Regions from separate parts of the Homo sapiens genome. Here region 1 is linked to region 2. Evidence: fine-mapped expression QTL. A gene starts in region 2. The other region holds a variant in brackets. All regions are shown on one strand. Distances are between the middles of the regions.

The links. PIP is the estimated chance that this variant, and not a neighbour inherited with it, causes the effect. A credible set is the group of variants that fine-mapping cannot tell apart.
Region 1: its variant is the best candidate, but not a certain one, in a credible set for the expression of MINDY2 in whole blood (INTERVAL, PIP 0.79).

The regions. Positions count from the first base shown.
Region 1 is chr15:59,057,258-59,061,650 of GRCh38, reverse strand. It overlaps RNF111 (ring finger protein 111), which reads right to left. Exons shown (of 14, transcript NM_017610.8): 5 at 3,101-3,295. Among named protein-coding and RNA genes, the nearest start is that of CCNB2, 46 kb to the left of the region's middle. The variant G/C (reference allele first, on the strand shown) is at 1,832.
Region 2 is chr15:58,768,692-58,773,084 of GRCh38, reverse strand. It overlaps MINDY2 (MINDY lysine 48 deubiquitinase 2), which reads right to left and starts at 1,783. Exons shown (of 9, transcript NM_001040450.3): 1 at 850-1,783. The coding sequence starts at 1,689. MINDY2-DT (MINDY2 divergent transcript) reads left to right here and starts at 2,111. Exons shown (of 2, transcript NR_135474.1): 1 at 2,111-2,698; 2 at 4,206-4,393. RefSeq lists a silencer at 1,829-2,108 and an enhancer at 1,921-2,846.

The sequences.
Region 1 (4,393 bases), 290 kb before region 2:
AAGGAAGGAGTTAGGAGACTAGGAATTAGTAGAGGAGGACAGGTAGAGAGCCACAAAAGTTTATATGGAGGCATTGGAAGTTGCAGGAGTTCATGCTTAAGAACTTTCATTTATTCATTTTTTTAAAATTTCCCCTGGGGAATGAAAACCTTGAGGAAAAGGAGAGTGTTTTGAAATAGGCACTTAGAGGAACGAAAGGGAACTGATCAAGACAATGGTGATTTCCTACAGAAAGCCCAGGATTCGAAACCATAAATTTACGGAGGAACTTGGATAAGTGTGAAGCTAGATGGCTTGAATGTGAGGGTTGGAAATATTCAAAAAGGTACAAGATAAGGACGGGTTGTGGAGAACATAGTTGAACTAATGTTCCATAGGGTCCTGGAAGGAAATTGACCTTAAGAGAGGCCCATTTAGGACTGTAGCCAAGATGCTCAGAAATTAAATCTGATTTGTGAATGAACAAAGATTTATATATAAAAGTTTTTGGAATATTCTGAAATAAAGTTGGGACTGTATCACATAAAATGTACGTAAGAATAATGCTACACATAGGCCGAGGGTGGTAGTTCACACCTGTAATCCCAGCACTTCTGGAGGCTGAGGCAGGTGGATCGCTCGAGCCCAGGAGACTGAGGCCAGTGTGGGCAACACGGCAACATGGCAAAACCCCATCTCTACTAAAATACAAAAATTAGCCGGACGTGGTGGTCATGCCTGTGGTCCCCCATCTACTCGGGAGGATCACTTGAGCCTGGGAGGTGGAGATTGCAGTGAGACAAGATTGTGCCACTGCACACAGGCCTGGGCAACAGAGTCAGACCTGTCTCACAAAAAAAAAAATAATAATAATAATAATAATAATGCTACATAAAGCTACAACAGGAGACAGGAGTCAATGAGAAGTCAAATCCCTGCCTCAAAAATTATTACAGTTTTGTCAAGGTACTTAACTTCTCAGGTTTCTTCATTTCTGAAATGGTAAGAGAAATGCCAACATCAATAATTTATTTTTTAAAACAGGGTCTTACTCTGTCATCTGGGCTGGAGTGTAGTGGTGCCCTCGAGGATCACTGTAGCCTCAACTTGTCAGGATCACATGATTCTCCTGACTCAGTCTCTGAGTAGCTGGCACTAAAGGTGTGTGTCACCAAGCCTCACTAATTTCTGCAAGTTTCTGTTTTTTTGTTTTGTTTTGTTTTTTTCTTCAAAAGAGACAAGGTTTCACCACGTTGCCTAGGCTGGTCTTGAACTCCTGGCCTCGAGTGATCTGCGTCCCTGGCCTCCCAAAGAGCTGGGATTACAGGTGTGAGTCTCACCATGTCAAGGATTTTTTTTTTTTTAAGAATTAAAATATATACAATAACATATAAGATACCCAAGTAACAAGCTAAGAAAAGAGTATGTACTCAACAAATGAAATAAAAGCCCATTTCATTTCTGCCTACATTTTTTCAGAGAATGTTTTTAAAAGACACCCCTGGGTACAGTGGTTCACACCTGTAGTCCTAGCTACTTGAGAGACTGAGGTAGGAGGATCACCTGAGCCTGGAACTTCAAGACTGGCCTGGGCCAAAAAAACAAAAAAGATACTCCTGGGAAATCTCCTTGAGAATGTTTCTCAATTCTGCCCTCAGTTTTCCAGGGGAGAGAATACTTCCTGATCCAGCCACATGTAGTTTTCTAATCTGCTAGATGTAAATTACATGAATATTAAAAGAATTAAATGAGATATTATTAAAAGCAAAAAGGGATAGAAAATATAAGATGGTTTCATTATTAATGGTGATTTAGTCAATCCACAAGCTACAGGGTCTACAGTGTCCCTATT[G/C]GTAAGCAGTTAGCAAGTTCCTATCTCTGTACCATTATCCAAAAATGAAAGAAAGTTAGTTTAAGGCTCAGTTAAACAAAGGATATAAGAGAGAGCCAGAGATATCACTGCTAATTGAAACGTAAGAACTAGCTTGAGATAAGAGCTAAAACTAAAGAAAGCTCCAGAATAAATTTTTGTGACCCTGGATTAGGCAACGGTTTCTTAGATATGACACCAACAGACCAAACCATAACCAAAAAACCCCAGAAAATGGATATCACCAAAATTTTAAAAACTCCCATCCCCATTCTCAATTATTTTGGGAAGATAACTAAGGAGTAGACTTAGTGCATCCAATGGTAACTCTATTTTAACTTTCTGAGGAACCATCAAAGTGTTTTTCTCAGCAGTTGCACCATTTTGCATTCCTACCAGCAATTCGCAAGGGTTCCAATTTCTCTACATCCTTGCCAACGCTGGTGATTTTCTATTTTTGTTTGTGTTATAGACACCCTAGTTGGTGCAAAGTGGTATCTCATTGTGGTTTTCATTTGCATTTCCCTAATGATTAGTGATGTTGAGCATCTTGTGCTTCTTGGTCATTTGCATAACTTCTTCAGAAATATCTATTCAAATCTTTTCTCATTTTAAAATTGGGTTGTCTTTCTGTTGGGTTGGGGCTTTTTGTTTGTTTCTTTTTACTTTTTTATTTTTTAAATATAAATAGAGATAGGGTTTCACCATGTTGCCCAGGCTGGTCTTGAACTCCTGGTCTCAAGTGATCCTCCACCCTCAACCCCTCAAAGTACTGGAATTACAAGCATGAGCCATCACACCCGGCCTGTTGGGCAGTTTTAAGAGTGCTTTGTAGATTCTGGATTCTAAAGTGCTTATCAGATAAAGGATTTGCAATATTTTTCTTCCCCCCATTCTGTAGGCTGTCTTTCACTGTCTTGATAATATCCTTTAATGCACGAAAGTTCTAAATTTTGATGAAGTCCAACTTATCTACTTTTGCTTTTGTTGCTCATGCTTTTGGTGTCAGCCATTTGCTTCTCCCCAAGCTCTCTTATTTGAGCTATAATACTCTGGTTACATATAGCACACAAACTCAAATATGAAATCAGCCTAATTATAATAAAGACTACCTTGATAACATATGAAGTTTATTATAATGTAAGAATACCCGCTTATTAACATAGCTAAAATCTTAGACTTAAAAACAATAATACTTTTCCTAACGAAAGTAATGACAAAAAGTCTCCCCTCCCCCACTTTTTTACATACCTCCTATAGAAGTGCCAGTGGTACTATTGCTTGTAAGAGTAGCTGAAGTCTCTGACACTGTGGAAGGTTGGCTACTGGTGACAGCTGAAGCAGTATCAGAGGCCTGCTCAGAGGTAGATGGATTTGAATTGTTAATGGAAGCGCTAGTAGCTTGTGATTCCATTCTTGCAGAAGTGGTTGGTACTACAGTAGGTTCTACAAAATACAAAATGTCAACTTAGCATTTCAAAACAAATTAGATAAAGGGTTATATTTTAATGTAAGCTAATGTGTTTATAATTAATAAATAAAAAAACTTTAAAAATACAAGCTCTCTAATAACATTTGGTAAAGAAAGCGTTCACAAAGCTAAACTGCAATATCGAACAGACGTGTTACCAAAATATTACTGCATTTTAAAAAAATCCAACACCGATATGCTTATTCCAATAATTTAGGTGATTTAACAGTTTTTCAGGTAGCTTCTAAATAAGTTGTCTGATCTATCACAAAGAAGAAAACAGTAAAAGGAAATAAAAGTTCCTTACTATGCACGTACACATGGTCACGAGCTGCCAGAACAGTGTTACAAACCACACTGTCTGACACAATATGGATTCTAGGGTAAGACTGCCTGGATAGCAATACTGATTTCACCACTGACAGTATGAATATAAATAAGTTATTTAACCATTCTCCATTTCCTCATCTGTAGAACTGGGAAAGCATCAGAATTTTCTTCATAGAACTGTCATTAGGATGAACTGAGATCACATACTTCGTATGATGCCTTACAGAGAGTAATCACTTAGCATTAGCTATGATTTCCAATAACTGTTTTAATCTCCTTTCCATGCCTTTTTATATGTTTTCCAAAGAAAATTTTGTAAATATTAATACTCATCAGTGCTTTCTAATAAAAATTAACATTTTTCTATCAGAAAGTAAAAGAAATTTCAGGTAGACTTCAACTTATGAGTGAGTTAAGTTTCAAAGAACTAATTTTAAAATGGTTGCTTAAAATTGAGAACGGTAGGAATAAATCCATCCAAAGCATAGTCACGACAATTAAATCTGAAAAGAAGGGGGGTCTCTTAATGTGCTATGGAATGAGAGGGTTGACTTTCTATACAATGCAGTAAGGTAAGCTAATTCCTTAGGCACAAATAGTACCTGTGAATCTATATGGGACACTTTGAATGCTAGTATGTCCAAATGCTTGTATATGCAAATTGCTTGTACATAAAAAAGGGGGAAAAGAACTTCTGTTTATTTGTAAATAGTTTAACCAGGGTTTCTCAACCTTGGCAATAC
Region 2 (4,393 bases):
GGTGCTGTGAGATGCATCTTCTCAGCACCCTAACACTGCAAGCTTAAATGAGACACTTCATTTGACAGGTAACTCGCTCTGAGTCCTCAACATACCTATTTTTAAGGGTCTTTCCCTTTTTTGCTCCTTCACCTTAGACATACCTTTTCTTATTTTAGTTCTTTAGAGTTTTAGCTCCCTTAACACATTCGGATGCATGGTTACTGGTAATAATGCCAAACCATTTAAGGAGAGCCAAAGAAATGAGGCAAGTAAAAATCATGCATAAAATGAAAACAATCTTTGAAAACCAAGAAGTTACGGTAATTGGGTCTCAGACCAATGCTTTTCCTTAAATGGAATTTGTCTAAAGAGCCACATCTTCCCCATCACCATTCTCTTAAGTATCTACACACAAATGGGGCATTAGTTGGAAATCAAACTAAATATAACCATGAAAACTTAGTCCATGATATCACGGATTGATGGTAACTTCTGAAGATTACTTTCTCCAATTCTTCACTTTTTTGCATATGTGATAAGGTCAGTAAGAAAATGTAGGAAATTATAGTTTAAAATAATCATAAGATTTAAGATGCTCTAAGTCCTTCTTGTTTCTAAGTGTATCAACCACAATTGAATGTTGAACTCTTAAACACTACAAGAGAAGACTGAGGTTAGGGGCAATTCTTTTCGATATATGTATAAAGGAATATTCCTTCAACATGGAAGTCTTGGAATGAATTTCATGTAAGAAGGGGACTGATGAATGAGGAAAGAAAGGAAGCCATCACCTGACATGCAGCAGCTCCCTCACCCCGTTTTCCTCCACCCCAAAAGCTGTAGGAAGTAGAAAGCTGCAGAATGTACCTTCCAGGCCAGGAGCAAAACATTGAGGATGGCCAGCAAGGGGCAGGGTCCGTTCTCATTCTGGGTGATGATGGGTGTGTTCTCTTCCTTCCACTGGATCCACTTGATGTGATACACAGATTGTCCCGGGAAGCGTTCCTTGGAGGCCGCCAGCACCTGAGCGGTCTCCTCCCCCTCCTCCTCCTTGCACAGAGGAACAGCCCCGGGCAACACCGCCGCGCCCTCCTCCTCCTCAGGGACCCTGTTCTCCGCTCCCTCCTCACTATTGAACTCGCAGCTACTGGGAAAAGAATGCAGGTTAGAGAACGACTCCAGAGAGTCCAGGCTCGGAGATTCCCCAGGAGGGCTCGGGTCGCTGCAACTGCTGCTGAGGCCGCCGGCGCTGCTGGGCTCTTCGGAGCCGGCGGCGGTCAGTTCTGCTTGGCAGGTGCCGGCGAGATCCGGGCGGGCTCCCGCGTCTCCGGCGGTACCCAACTCATGACCCACTCCGGCCACGGCTGTCTCCGGGGAGGCGGTCACCTTGTACTGCCCTCTCAGAGGCGCCTCGGCGGCAGCAGGACTCTCCAAACCACTGTCCTTCAAGTCCAAACCCGCGGAGGAGCTGCAGGGTCCGGGAACCTCAGGAGAGCCCGCGGGAGAAGCCGAGTCCGGGAGGCTCCTCCTGGCGGCCGCCGCCCCCAGCCCATTCCCGCCGCTGGTCTCCGCCGCCCATACCCCAGGACCATCACCAGCGGCGAGCCTGGTCTCCTGTAGCCCTTCCTGCGAAGAACCTGTCCCTGACGCTGGCCCGGCCGCCACCCCGTGTTCTAGCGGCTGCAGGCTCTCGGGGCTGCTCTCCATACCGGGCCGCCCGCCCCCAGCTCTATGGAGACCGCGGCCACTTCTCCGCAGCCAGCGCCTTGGACGCCATGACAGCTGTATTGGCAGCAACAGCGCCCTGGCGCGGCCTCGGTCAGGCACGTCACCGGGGAGAGTACTAAGAACGCGCGCGGGCGCGCGCTACCGCTCTGTCCGTGCGCTCTGAGCTTGCCTCCGCCTGACTGCGCGCTGAGAGGCGAAGGCGAACCACTCAGCAGCCGCCCACGTGGCCCAGCCCTTTCCGTGCGTCCGACCGAGCTCGCTCTCGGAAGGCCGGGCGTGGAGGGCGTGGCTAGGAGGGCGCGGCCGGGGGGCGCGCCCCCGCGGCTCAGCTCCAGTAGGAAAACATCCTCTCACTATGTGGCCGGAAGTTGAACTCCCGGGCAGCTCCCTTGTGTGCGGCTTCTTTAAAGGGAAGGCAGGAGGCGGACAGCTTGGCTGTGACCCTTTAGCGCTGGGTCGCGTGTGGCCCACCCTCGGCCTGAGGCATTGTTGGGTGGTTGGAGGTGGTTGTAGTATTTGGAAAAGAACTTGTCCCTGAAGGGCTCAGGGGACTTGGTTTCTCAGCTCCTAATATGGAAAATTAAGGCATTTCTTACGAGATGCAGATTTTAAAGCAGGCATATCTACTCGACGGCTTTGGATTACTGCACTGCACAAATTCCAGTCTCTGTCGGTTTTGGCTGAGAAGAGCTGTGCTTCTCACCAGCTACTGGTGAGACATTCGCCCTACAGGAAAGGGTCGGTATGATTGTGGACATTGACATGCGTAGCAAAAGAAAGTGGCTAATTTGCGCCAATAATAATAAATTAGCTTGTATTTGAATTAGCCAAGTCTTTGCGGTTTTGCTAACTTGGCTTCACTTTGCATGGAGTGGGAAGCGCCTGCTTCTGAAAAGGTGACTTTTTTCCTAATTAGAATGGACTCCTCTTAAGGCCATGCAGTTTTCAAAGAAGAAAGACAAGCTGGACGTTTTGTTAGTAACAAAATGTATGTGGGTCCTATTCTAACTTGTTACAGAAAAGGGCTTTTTCCCCCATCTTTTTTCTTTCAACATTTTCTAGGCTGTTGGGGATAAAAAATTAACGAGACAGGTCTTCCTTCGCAGACATATAAATACCTGATACATAATTAGAATGTGATATTTTTGCACCTCTGTTGGTTAGAGAAGGCAGACAAGATTGCAAAGTAGTATTTCATTCATTCCTTTAATACATTTTAGTACCAAGTAAGTTGCTGGATGCTGTCTGTCACTGGAGATGCCATAGTGGATCACGGAGCTTATATCTTCATGGAGCTTACTGTCTTTTTTTTTCTTATTGCTATTTTTTAATACATACTTATATGTTTTTTTGTTTTTGTTTTTGCTTTTGTTTTTTTTTTTTTTTGAAACGGAGTCTCTCTCTGTCGCCCAGGCTGGAGTGCAGTGGCACGATCTTGGCTCACTGCAACCTCCGCCTCCCGGGTTCAAGCGATTCTCCTGCCTCAGCCTCCCGAGTAGCTGGGACTATAGGCGCCCGCCACCATGCCTGGCTAATTTGTTGTTGTTGTTGTTTTTGAGACGGAGTCTTGCTCTGTCGCCCAGGCTGGCGTGCAGTGGCGCGATCTCGGCTCACTGCAAGCTCCGCCTCCCGGGTTCACGCCATTCTCCTGCCTCAGCCTCCTGAGTAGCTGGGACTACAGGCGCCCGCCACCACGCCCAGCTAACTTTTTGTATTTTTAGTAGAGACGGGGTTTCACCGTGTTAGCCAGGATGGTCTTGATCTCCTGACCTCGTGATCTGCCCACCTCGGCCCCCAAAGTGCTAGGATTACAGGCGTGAGCCACCATGCCCGGCCACACATAATATGTATTACATATAATACATGAATGTTGGATACTTATATTCTTGTTTACCTGAGAATGCAGAAGACTGTGCCCCTTTTTTTTTTTTTTTTTTTTTTTTTCCCACTTGAGACGCAGTCTCGCTTTGTCACCCAGGCTATAGTACAGTGGCGCCATCTCAGCTCATTGCAACCTCCACCTCCCGGGTTCAAGTGATTCTCCTGCCTCAGCCTCCCAAGTAGCTGGGACTACAGGCGCACGCCACCAGGTCCAGCTAATTTTTTTTGTATTTTTAGTAAAGACGAGGTTTCACTACCTTGGCCAGGCTGGTCTCTAACTTCTGACCTTGTGATCCGCATTGACATGATACTATGGTATATGTCCAACTGTAGGGTCCAGCCTTACGGGGCTTAGCGGGTGTTCTCCCCGTGTTCAGAGACGAGAGATTGTAATAAATAAAGACACAAGACAGAGAGATAAAGAGAAAACAGCTAGGCCCGGCGGACCGCTACCGTAAAGATGCGGAGACCGGTAGTGGCCCCGAACGGCTGGGCTCGCTGATATTTATTGCATACAAGACAAGGGGGCAGGGTAAGGAGGGTGAATCTTTTAAGTGATTGACAAGATGAAGCAAGTCACGTGATTACAGGATGGCGGGGGCCTTCTCTTTTAGGTAGCTGAAGCAGAGAGAGAAGGCAGCATACGTCAGCATTTTCTTCTCTGCACTTACAAGAAAGATCAAAGACTTTAAGACTTTCACTGTTTCTTCTACCGCTATCTACTACGAGCTTCAAAGAGGAACCAGGAGTATGGGAGGAGCATGAAAGTGGACAAGGAACGTGACCATTGAAGCACAGCACC